Homo sapiens: one gene and its partners. The protein of the gene in region 1 purifies or fractionates together with the protein of each later gene. This does not show direct contact. Each region holds a gene or a part of one and is shown in the gene's direction. Other genes may lie near its edges.

Region 1 (5,602 bases):
GTGAGGTGGTGCCTCACTGTAGTTTTAGTTTTCCCTTCCCTAATGATTAATGATGTTGAACATCTTTTCATGTGCTTGTTGGCCATTTGTATATCTTCTTTGGAGAAATGTCTGAGTTCTTTGCCGTCTGTGTGTGTGTGTGTGTGTGTGTGTCTGTGTGTGTGTATACATATATATGTATACATATATGTATGATCTATATATATGTATACATATATATGTATGATCTCTCTCTATATACATACATATGTATGATCTTGCGCTCTCTCTCTCTCTCTCTCTCTCTCTCTCTCTCTCTCTCTCTCTATATATATATATATATATATATATATATATATATATAAATTAGAGATGGGCTTTATGTTGCCCAGGCTGAACTTGAAGTCCTAGGCTCAAGTGATCTTCCTGCCCCATCCTCCCAAGTAGCTGGGACTACAGGTGCAAGCCACCATGCCTGGCTCTTTGCCTATTTTTTGATAGGGTTATTTGTTGTTATTTTCTCTTGAGTTGTTTTTAGGGTTTTGTTTGTTTATTTTTACTTCATTTTGTTAGGCAAACACAAGTTTCAGTCTCTTTCAAAACATTTTAGTTAAAGGCCTTAGAAGAGAAAATGGGGGCAGTCTTCCAGACAATTCAGTCTAAAAGTACAAGGTTGCCTCAAGAAACCTGACTCTGTTCCTGATTTGGAGCTCTTTTTGCCTGTGTTGTAGGGTAAACTACTTCAGCTCACCTCCTCTGCCTCTTGACTTCTCTTGAACTATCATTATTCGGGGCCAGGACTAGGTTAAGGTGAGCTCAGGAGATAGACTCCTTGGATACAAAATTGAAGGGAGCACCAAAAAAACTCAGTAGTCAAAATAAGTAATATTTTAGTGCAATTTTTTTTTTTTTTGAGACAGAGTCTCACATTGTTGCCCAGGCTGGAGTGCAATAGGGCATGAACACCACTCACTGCAGCCTTGATCTCCTGGGCTCAAGTGATCCTCCTGCCTCAGCTGCCAAGTAGTTGGGTCTATAGGCTCATGCCAACATGCCTGGATAATTTTTGTATTTTTTGTAGAGATGGGGTTTTGCCATGTTGCCCAGACTGGCCTTGAACTCCTGAGCTCAAGTGATCCACCCAACTGGGACTCCCAAAGTGCTGACATTACAGGGGCCAGGCGCAGTGGCTCACACCTATAATCCCAGTACTTTGGGAGGCCAAGGTGGGTGGATCACTTGAAGCCAGGAGTTTGAAACCAGCCTGGCCAACATGGCAAAACCCCGTCTCTACTAAAATTATATATAAAAAAATTAGCCAGGCATGGTGGCACACACCTGTAGTCCCAGCTACTCAGGAGGTTGAGGCAGGAGAATCGCTTGAACCTGGGAGGCAGAGGTTGCAGTGAGCTGAGATGGTGCCGCTGCACTCCAGCCTGGGCGACAGAGCGAGACTGTCTCAAAAAAAAAAAAGAAAATTAAGCTCTTTTTACGTGATCAAAAGTTAGCTATTATTATTGTTGTCTCTTCCTCTTCCAAAAGGGCCAGCAGTGCTGGCCACAGATAGATGCCCCACAGATGCTCAGTCATCTCAGTGCTGTGAATGATCAATCTAGGCACCAAGCCAGAGTGGAAGACATTTTTTCAGATGAGCAGGACTTTCAGGCATTCTTAAAATACTCTACCCTGCATCTTCTAGCCTTTTCTTGGAAAAACATGTAGGAAAGCATGTATAGTTCTAGCCTCAGGTAGAAAACTAACTCAGTGACCTAGAATTGAGACAGAGTCTACCATCAGACTTGGGGAAGCAGTGATCTTAATAGGTGCTAAGGCTTTTTGTCAAGGGATTAAAGGACTATTTTGGTGCATATTTCTTCTTTCTTTCTTTCTTCTTTTTTTTTGAGACAGAGTCTTGCTCTGTCACCCAGGCTAGAGTGCAGTCGCGTGATCTCGGCTCACTGCAGCTGCCGCCTCCTAGGCTCAAGCCATTCTCCTGCCTCAGCCTCCCGGGTGGCTGGGATTACAGGCGCACGCGACCACGCCGGCTGATTTTTGTATTTGTAGTAGAGATGGGGTTGGACTGTGTTGGCCAGGGTGGTCTCAAACTCCTAACCTCAGGTGATCCACCCACCTTGGCCTCCCAAAGTGCTGGGATTACAGATGTGAGCCACCACACCCGACCAGTGCATATTTCAGTCAGATCTAAGTGACCTCTATGACTCCAGACACAATCTCACTGAGCTCTTGTTTTTTCATACATATAGTGAAAGCACAGGTTTTAAGGTCCCTTTCTACTCTAAAGTGTTATGCATCTTTGTCAAGGGGGATGGGAAATGACTGTTGTCTCCATTCTCTTCACTTGTCCTTAAACAGAGCTCACTCTACTCTGGATGAGGACCTGGAAAGATGGCTGCAGCCACCTGAGGAGAGCGTGGAGCTACAAGACCTTCCCAAGGGCTCTGAAAGGTTATTGTTCCCCAAAGGGGAATCCTTTTCTTCTTTTTCAGGAAGTGGGGCTAGGTTTTAGACTTCTTGGAGAATGAATGCCTGATGATGGCATTACATTGATTTAGATAAGCCAGCCCTGACTCCACCTGTCTGCACTCATATTTGCCCCTCTTCCTCTGACCACCCACAGTACTCAAGATATTGATTAGCAGATTCATATCATTATAGACAGAGGCTTCTAAGTTTGCTGTATCTTGGCCCTGCTACCTTTGACATTTTCATCAGTCATGTGAATTAAATCAGAAAAGGTATGCTTATCAAATTTTTAGATAACACAAATCTAGGAATGAATGCTGATGTGATGAGTGATAGACTGAGGATTCAAAATCATCTTGACAGGTGGAAATGTTAGATTCTGTAAAAGATAAAGGTCAAAGATCCAAAATTACAGAATGTGTGAGACCTGGTCTAACTGGAGAAGTTTTCATCAGAAGCTTCTGCTCACTATAATTTTACTGAGGGCAAGAAGTATGTCTTATTTTTGTATGCCCAGTAATGAGCCATGCATCTTGAGACATGATGAGAAGTCAAGAAATTCTTCCTGAGGAAGGCATGGGCAATGACTCTGTGAGGCCTGTTTGATGAAGTGCTGAAAAGGTCAATGCAGCATTGATGCTGGATATATAAAAATGTACTGTCCAGATGACGGTAATGTGCTGTTCAGAGGAGTCCTAGGACACATGTGGGGCTCCATTCTGGGTATCACATTTTAAAAGGGATATTAACAAACACAAGAGTGTGGCTACAGAACAGTCAGAGGTCTGGAAACCATGTCATATGAGAACAGCTGAAGGAGCTGAGAGGCTCAGCCTGAGAAAGGCAGATGGAATGGAGAATTTGATAGCTGCCCTCAAATACCTGAAATATTGCAAAGTGAAGAGAGTCAGCTTACTTGTCTGCCCTAGAAGACTAATTAGTGACTAGAAATTGCAGAGTAACAGATTTTTATTCAATAAAGCACAAACCTAATAGCCACAGCTATCTGATAAAGGGAAATAGCTGCCTGCCTTTACACTTATTTTAGTAATGGTTACTGCTGCTCAGGCAGTGGCTGGATGATTCCCTGTCCTGGGCATTTGAACGGGGGCGGAATATAACCCAAAGGCCTCCTCCAACTCTTGAACCTGTGATTCTATTAGTGGGAAAATATTAAGAGGGGAAAAAATCTCTCTTCACTCTAGCTGGCTTTATTTTCTCTCTCATTTTACGTATTTTGTTTTGACTATCCACCAAATGAAAACAGAAGAATCCCTAAACAATGTTATTTTGGTTCAACCAGCATCCACCGAGCACTGACAATGTCCAAAGCACTGTGCTAGGGGCTAGAGGTACCACAAAGAGGGATAAGATGGCTCTGCCGCCTATAAGGAGTTTCCAGTTGGGTCGGGGGGATGGTTTCTGCTTAATAGATTGACAAACATGGTCTTAAATTTTGAGGTACTTAAATTATTTACATATTTCACTTAGGAGAGAGTTTCGGGAAATGAAGATAAGATGATAAAATAAATGATGGTTTTGAAAGGGACACCAATCAAAACTTAAGTAAAATGCCTTTTTTTTCCTTTGGAGCAGTATAGCATAGTGGTTGAAAGCAGAGTCTAAGGCAGACTGAGTCTAAGGTCAGAGTCTAGCTCTAGGAATTATTAGGTGTGTAATTTAACTTCTCTGTGCCTCGGTTTCCTCATTGCTTAATGGGGATGGCAGTGGTAACTACCTTATATAGTTATGGGAATTAAATGAGTTAAATTATAGCACTTAAACCAATGCCTGGTGCATAGAGAACACTCTTGTTAGTGCTAGCTATTATATGGTTTTGTTGTTGTTGTTGTTGTTGTTTGTTTTTTGTTTTGAGTACAGTCCTGTTTTCTTGGCTGTTGTGTATACGTTTTGATTCCCCAAATAATTGTTGTTACAGGGAGACAAATATCAAAGATCAAAAAGTTGGTGAAGAGAAAAGAAAAAGGGAAGATAGCATTACACCAGAAAGAAGGAAATCAGAGGGTGTTCTAGGGACTTCTGAAGAAGGTATGAATTAATGTATGTTTATAATGTAGTCTGTAGTCCTTGGGCTTTGATGTGCTTCAAAGTTATTTAGAAATGTTTCCCAGATGCTATACATAATCCTCCTACCTTTGATAATTTATTTTTCTCTGCAGTTCAGCTCAGGTTTTCTGTTAATTGCCAATCATAGCTTTATCACAAAAACAGTAATAACATCCAATTCTATTTCCAAAGCAAGCTTTTGCCCAGTCTCATCATCATTATCTTGCACGTTGTCTGGGGAGACGTTTTGCTGCTTCTTTTTTTTTTAGACAGTTTCACTCTTGTTGCCCAGGCTGGAGTGCAGTGGCACGATCTCGGCTCATCGCAACCTCTGCCTCCTGGGTTCAAGTGATTCCCCTGCCTCAGCCTCCTGAGTAGCTGAGATTACAGGTGGATGCCACCATGCCCAGCTAATTTTTGTATTTTTAGTAGAGACGGGGTTTCACCAGGTTGGCCAGGATGGTCTCGATCTCTTGACCTCAGGTGATCTGCCTGCCTCGGCCTCCCAAAGTGCTGGGATTACAGGTGTGAGCCACTGTACCCGGCCGATGTTTTGCTTCTAATTGTCCAACGTCTTCCAAAGAGTTTTAAATTTAGCTCACATAGATGCTTCAAAATCCAGTAATAAATCATATTTTATGGAATTTAAGTGGAGTCTACAAGTAATGTGAAAATTATAAATTAACCTTAATTTTAAAACTATTTTGATAGATTTTGAAGGCTTCTGATATGCCCTTTACAATGACGCTCTCCCATATTTAAGTTCTTCCTACTCAGGAAAGTAAGAGACTTTAACTCTTTCAGATCATCTGGTATTCCTTTCACCTCTTCCTGATTTCCTTCTCATTCTCCCCATCTCTGCCCTGCTTTGTGCCCCAGAATGCTGACCCTAGTGGACTGCATCTCCTGGGCTTCCTGTTTGCCAATGACAGGCCCCAGCAGAAGATTAGTGGGGCTAGAGAGAATTTGGGGTATTACTTTGCCTCACTGCTTACTTCAGCACCTTGTGCCTGGTAGAAGTGGTGTCTCTCCACAAGTGCGGCTTCTGTAGGCAGTCCATTCTTCCCAATTC
Region 2 (2,314 bases), on another chromosome or scaffold:
GATTTTACCTTTCGTTCTTAAAACGCCCTCCAATAAACATCAATTATTTTCTTCTTCTTCTTCTTTTTTTATTTCAATAATTTATTTTTCTTTTTTTTAATTATACATTAAGTTTTAGGGTACATGTGCACAATGTGCAGGTTTGTTACATGTATATACATGTGCCATGTTGGTGTGCTGCACCCATTAAGTTGTCATTTATATTAGGTATATCTCCCAATGCTATCCCTCCCCCCTCCCCCCACCCCACAACAGGCCCTGGTGTGTGGTGTTCCCCTTCCTGTTTCCAGGTGTTCTCATGGTTCAATTCCCACCTATGAGTGAGAACATGCAGTGTTTGGTTTGTTGTCCTTGTGATAGTTTGCTGATAATGATGGTTTCCAGCTTCATCCGTGTCCCTACAAAGGACACGAACTCATCATTTTTTATGGCTGCATAGTATTCCATGGTGTATATGGGCCACGTTTTCTTAATCCAGTCTATCATTATTGGACATTTGGGTTGGTTCCAAGTCTTTGCTATTGTGAATAGTGTTCCAATAAGCATACGTGTGCATGTGTCTTTATAGCAGCATGATTTATAATCCTTTGAGTATACACCCACTAATGGGATGGCTGGGTTAAATGGTATTTCTAGTTCTAGATCCTTGAGGAACTGCCACACTGACTTCCACAGTGGTTGAACTTGTTTACGGTCCCACCAACAGTGTAAAAGTGTTCCTATTTCTCCATATCCTTTCCAGCACCTCTTGTTTCCTGACTTTTTAATGATCGCCATTCTAACTGGTGTGAGATGGTATCTCATTGTGGTTTTGATTTGCATTTCTCTGATGGCCAGTGATGATGAGCATTTTTTCATGTGTCTGTTGGCTGCATAAATGTCTTCTTTTGAGAAGTGTCTGTTCACATCCTTTGCCCACTTGTTGATGGGGTTGTTTGATTTTTTCTTGTAAATTTGTTTGAGTTCTTTGTAGATTCTGGATATTAGCCCTTTGTCAGATGAGTAGATTGCAAAAATTTTCTCCCATTCTGTAGGTTGCCTGTTCACTCTGATGGTAGTTTCTTTTGCTGTGCAGAAGCTCTTTAGTTTAATTAGATCCCATTTGTCAATTTTGGCTTTCAATTATTTTCTTCTTAAAGTATAGAACTAAAGAAAATGACCTTTTGAGTTTTGGAAATGATTTTTTTTTTTTTTTTGAGATGGAGTCTTGCTCTGTCCCCCAGGCTGGAGTGCAGTGGCATGATCTCAGCTCACTGCAAGCTCCGCCTCCTGGGTTCATGCCATTCTCCTTCCTCAGCCTCCCGAGTAGCTGGGACTACAGGTGCCTGCCACGACGCTTGGCTAATTTTTTGTATTTTTAGTAGAGACGGGCTTTCACTGTGTTAGCCAGGATGGTCTCGATCTCCTGACCTCGTGATCCACCCACCTCGGCTTCCCAAAGTGCTGGGATTGCAGGCGTGAGCCACTGCGCCCAGCCGCATCTCTCTCATTTTTTAAAACAGCTAAAATGGATGCATTCACTACCTATGACCCTAGGGCATGGCTCAGAGTTAGTTCAAATTCCCATTAAAAAAAAAAAGTAACTTTAGCTTTAATTTAATTTTCTAAATCTGATGCCATTCCTAGTACATGAATATTCTGGATTTCCTCGTAGAGAAATTACAATAAGCATTCAAGAAATATGTGTAAAAAGCTTTCTAATTTTATATTCATTTCACTATTGTGTATGCAACATCATGATCCAGGCATTTGTTTCTATAAATCTACTCTCTAACTTAAGGTTGGGTGCGGTGGCTCACACCTTTAATCCCAGCACTTTGGGAGGCTGAGGCTGGCACATCACTTGAAGCCAGGAGTTTGAGACCAGCTTGGCCAACATGATGAAACCCTGTCTCTACTACAAATACAAAAGAAAATTTAGCTGGGCATGGTGGAGTGTGCCTGTAATCCCAGCTACTCGAGAGGCTGAGGCACGAGAATTGCTTGAACCCAGGAGGCAGAGGTTGCAATGAGCGACGATCACACTATTACACTCCAGCCCGGGTGACAGAACAAGATTGTCTAAAAAAAACCCAAACAAACAAACAAACAAACAAAAAACTACTCTCTAACTTAAAATGAAAAAACAGAACCCTGTCCTCATAAATTTCAGTGCACATGGAACACTGTTATAGGCTGGGGAGGAGGAGGACACAGCTGGGTGGCTGCTGGGTCTCCTGAGTCACATACCAAAAACTTCTGGGCCATCTTTGATGTTCCACCCAGACTGCTTTGAAGCTGGGCTTATCATAACACCTTATGTTTTCAATTGAGC
Region 3 (3,500 bases), on another chromosome or scaffold:
CAGGACCGCTGCAGTGTCCAGGCTGATGTCCTTCTGCCCACCTGGGCCTCTCCCCGTGGCTGAAGGACAGTGAGCAATGCCTGATTCGCCCCCATCCTCTCTGCCCCCACGCGGAGGCTGAGCTCCCCCTTTTCCCATTCTGTCTGCTGGCACTAGCGTATTTTTGCAGAGGGAGGCCTCCACACTTCCCCACTGGCCAGGGCACACCTGCACACTCAGTCCTGAGGAAAACAGCCACATGAACAGTGATGCTAAGGCTTTACCCTCTTGGGTAGAGGCTTCAAAACTCTCCTTTATATAGAAAAAAGTTTTGTCCTCTTAGCCCTCAAAGCAGAAGATGGGGGCCTCTGGCTAGCACCTGAGTCATTCTTCAGTATCTACCTGGAGGGGGCCCCTACCTTCCCAGCTGGGATGCCCCAAAGCTTCAGAGCCCTGCCCTGCAGGGAGTAGAAACCCATAGATGCTGAGTGCCAGGGCTACTGTTCCACAGGGAGGGGCTGGGGAGGGCTGCCTGTGCTTACCCCTGATGGTTTCTCTTTTCACAGGTGTCTGAGAGACGGGGCTGGAGACGTGGCTTTTATCAGAGAGAGCACAGTGTTTGGTAAGAGCAGGGTAATGAGCCGTGGGTACTGACCCCTTTTATCTTACTTGATCATGACTCTGACCTTTGAGCTAATTAGATTCCTAAGTTCATGGCAGACCATTTTCAAGATTCCTACAGGGCACAGCTCTGATTTTATGATCTTTCATATTTTAAATGATCAGTTTTCTTCAAACCTCCTGTGCCTACTGCCTTTCTCTTCCCCTCATAGACACCCATGCCTAGGTGCTTGGCAATGCGTCCTCCAGTCCTCCAAGACACATGTGCTCATGCAGAACAGATTGTGCTGGTTTGTGTTTCCGGTTTCTGGGTTCATAGAGGTTTTAGTGAGCATTAGAAATCCTGCTACTTGGGTTTTCTGCTCAGCATTTTGTTTTAGAGGTTTATCGGTATTGTTGTATACATGTCTAGCTCAGGGGTCCTAACAGTTGAGGAGTGTTCCGTGGAATACATCCACCTTTTACTTCTCTGTCACCATAGTGATGGACAGAGGTTGTGCTCTCTTTTCCTCTACCACATGCAGCCACACGACTGATACCTTCACCTGTGTTCCTTACTTACGTGCTGGACAGCGTCCCTCCTGGACTTATAATAAAGCAGTTGATGAGTATGTAGAGGCTAAACACACTGCACCCAGGACTAGTGGACATAAGCTCACTACATTTCATGCAAGACCAATAGAGACAGGGCTACTATATTCCACCCAGGGCCACTAGAGAAAGTGACAGACACCCACATTCACTCAGGACCATCAGAGACACACCCCACATCCACCCAGGACCACCAGAGAAAGAGACAACACCCACATTCACCTAGGACCATCAGAGACAGACCCCGCATTCATCAGAGGCCACCAGAAACAGACCTCCACATGCACCCAGGGCCACCAGAGACAGACCCCACATGCACCCAGGATCACCAAGCTGCTGTCTGGAATGACACTCTGCAAGTGTTCTAATTTCCCCACAACTTCAGTTAGAAGTATTTTTGACTTTCATACTTTTTGTCCGAATGATGGTTGTAATGCAATAGATAGTTCGTTTTATTTTTAATTTTCATTTCTCTGACAGCTGGTGAGTTTGATCATTTCAACATATTTGCTAGCCGTTTGGGCTTCCCTTTCTTATTTTGTGACATTTGACTACTTTTTAAATTGAGTTTCACACCTTGTTTCTGCATGATTTTGATTCAAGGACAGAAGTTCCTTCTATCTAGGTATCAAACTATTGCTGATTTTAAACTTTAGTAAAACCTCTTCTCAGTCAAAAATCTGACAACGGTAGTCTCTGTTGATCAAAAATCCTTGATATTGATAAGGTCAAATCCACAAGCCTCACCTTGTTGGTTTGTAGTTTTGAGATATTTCAAAGATGCCCTTCTTCACACCCAAATCATAATTATTTCCTAAAATAAGATTTGAAGATCCCCTTCCTCATCTATTTATATGTGCTCTACCTAGAAAGTCAGATATAGATTTGGCTTTAGCATTTTATCCCCTTTACAGTGAGGCAATTTACCTTACAATAAAAAAAGTATATTTTTTCTGCCATATGTGAAGCCAATTCTACACCAAGTTTGTATATATCCAAGTGGACCAGTTTCTGAGCTATTTTATTTCATTGGTGTATTTGCATTTTTTCTGCTTTTGTTACTGTGGCTTACCAATGGGTCTTACTATCTGGTGGAGAGAAAGAGAGAGAGCCAGTGAGAGGAAGAGAGAGAGAATGAGAGAGAGCTCCCTCTCCCCTCTCACTTTATTATTCCTTTTCAAATATACTCAGCTAAAACTTCAGAATTATTTTGTTGAATTTCTGGAAAAAATCATACTTTAATTTTGATTCGAATTGTACTGAATTTAAATTGTTCCATGAAAAATCAGCATATTTATAACATTAAGTTGTCCAGTCCATGGTGATGCTAAATCTCCCCCATTTGATCACACCTCTTTTTAGTTTCTTTGATAGAACTAAAATTTTTCCTTTGTGGGTCTGATGTGTCTTTGTGGGAGGCTAATTATTAGCTACTTAATGGTTTTAGTTGCTATTGTAACATCTTATAGTCCATATTGGTTTCTATTTGGTTATTGTTAATGAGGATAACATCTGATTTTTGTAGGTTGCTCTTATAACTTGTTACTCCTCTGAGTAGTTTTATTAGTTTCTGTTGGTTTCATTGGTTTTTTGTAGATGACGATATCATCTTTTTAAATAAGAGTGTGTCTTTTTCCTTCCAGTGTTTATATCTCACATTTCTTTTGTAAATTGTGTGATCTGGATATCTAGAATTGTGCTGGCATTGTAACAGTGGGCATCCTTGCCTTGTTCCTGATTTTGCGGTGAATGTCTACATTTTCTTCTTTTAGTAAGGTTTTTGCTGTAGATTAATGGCATTTATCAAGCCAATAACTTATGGCCAGGCGTGGTGTCTCACCCCTGTAATCCCAGCACTTTGGGAGACTGAGGCGGGTGGATCACATGAGGTCAGGAGTTCGAGACCAGCCTGGCCAACATGGTGAAACCCCATCTCTATTAAAAATACAAAAATTAGCTGGGCCTGGTGGCGTGCGCTTGTGGTCCCAGCTACTTGGGAGGCTGAGGCAAGAGAATCTCTTGACTCCAGGAGATGGAGGATGCAGTGAGCTGAGATCGCACCACTGCATTCCAGGCTGGGCAACAGAGTGAGACTCCGTCTCAAAACAAACAAAAAAACTTTACCGATTCTATCTATTACTATTTTTCTGAGGCTGAAAAAAAAACCACACACAAATAGATGTTGAACACATAAACAATCGTTCTGCATCTATTAAGATGAAGACGATCTCATGGTTTTCTGCCATTAAATGCAGATTACTTTAGTTTTTTTGATGTTCAGCCATTCTTTTGTTAATGGAATACACTGG

What was found.
Region 2: the proteins of TEX14 (region 1) and SERPINB5 purify together in Homo sapiens (affinity purification with mass spectrometry; one large-scale study listed by BioGRID and IntAct). This does not show direct contact.
Region 3: the proteins of TEX14 (region 1) and LTF purify together in Homo sapiens (affinity purification with mass spectrometry; one large-scale study listed by BioGRID and IntAct). This does not show direct contact.

Annotation. Positions count from the first base shown.
Region 1 is NC_000017.11:58,558,363-58,563,964, reverse strand, and holds part of TEX14 (inactive serine/threonine-protein kinase TEX14), read left to right. Parts: intron 1-2,352; coding exon 2,353-2,445; intron 2,446-4,402; coding exon 4,403-4,512; intron 4,513-5,602.
Region 2 is NC_000018.10:63,500,958-63,503,271, forward strand, and holds part of SERPINB5 (serpin B5), read left to right. Parts: intron 1-2,314. UniProt on the Homo sapiens protein: Tumor suppressor. It blocks the growth, invasion, and metastatic properties of mammary tumors.
Region 3 is NC_000003.12:46,451,406-46,454,905, reverse strand, and holds part of LTF (lactotransferrin isoform 1 preproprotein), read left to right. Parts: intron 1-545; coding exon 546-601; intron 602-3,500. UniProt on the Homo sapiens protein: Transferrins are iron binding transport proteins which can bind two Fe(3+) ions in association with the binding of an anion, usually bicarbonate. Lactoferricin binds to the bacterial surface and is crucial for the bactericidal functions.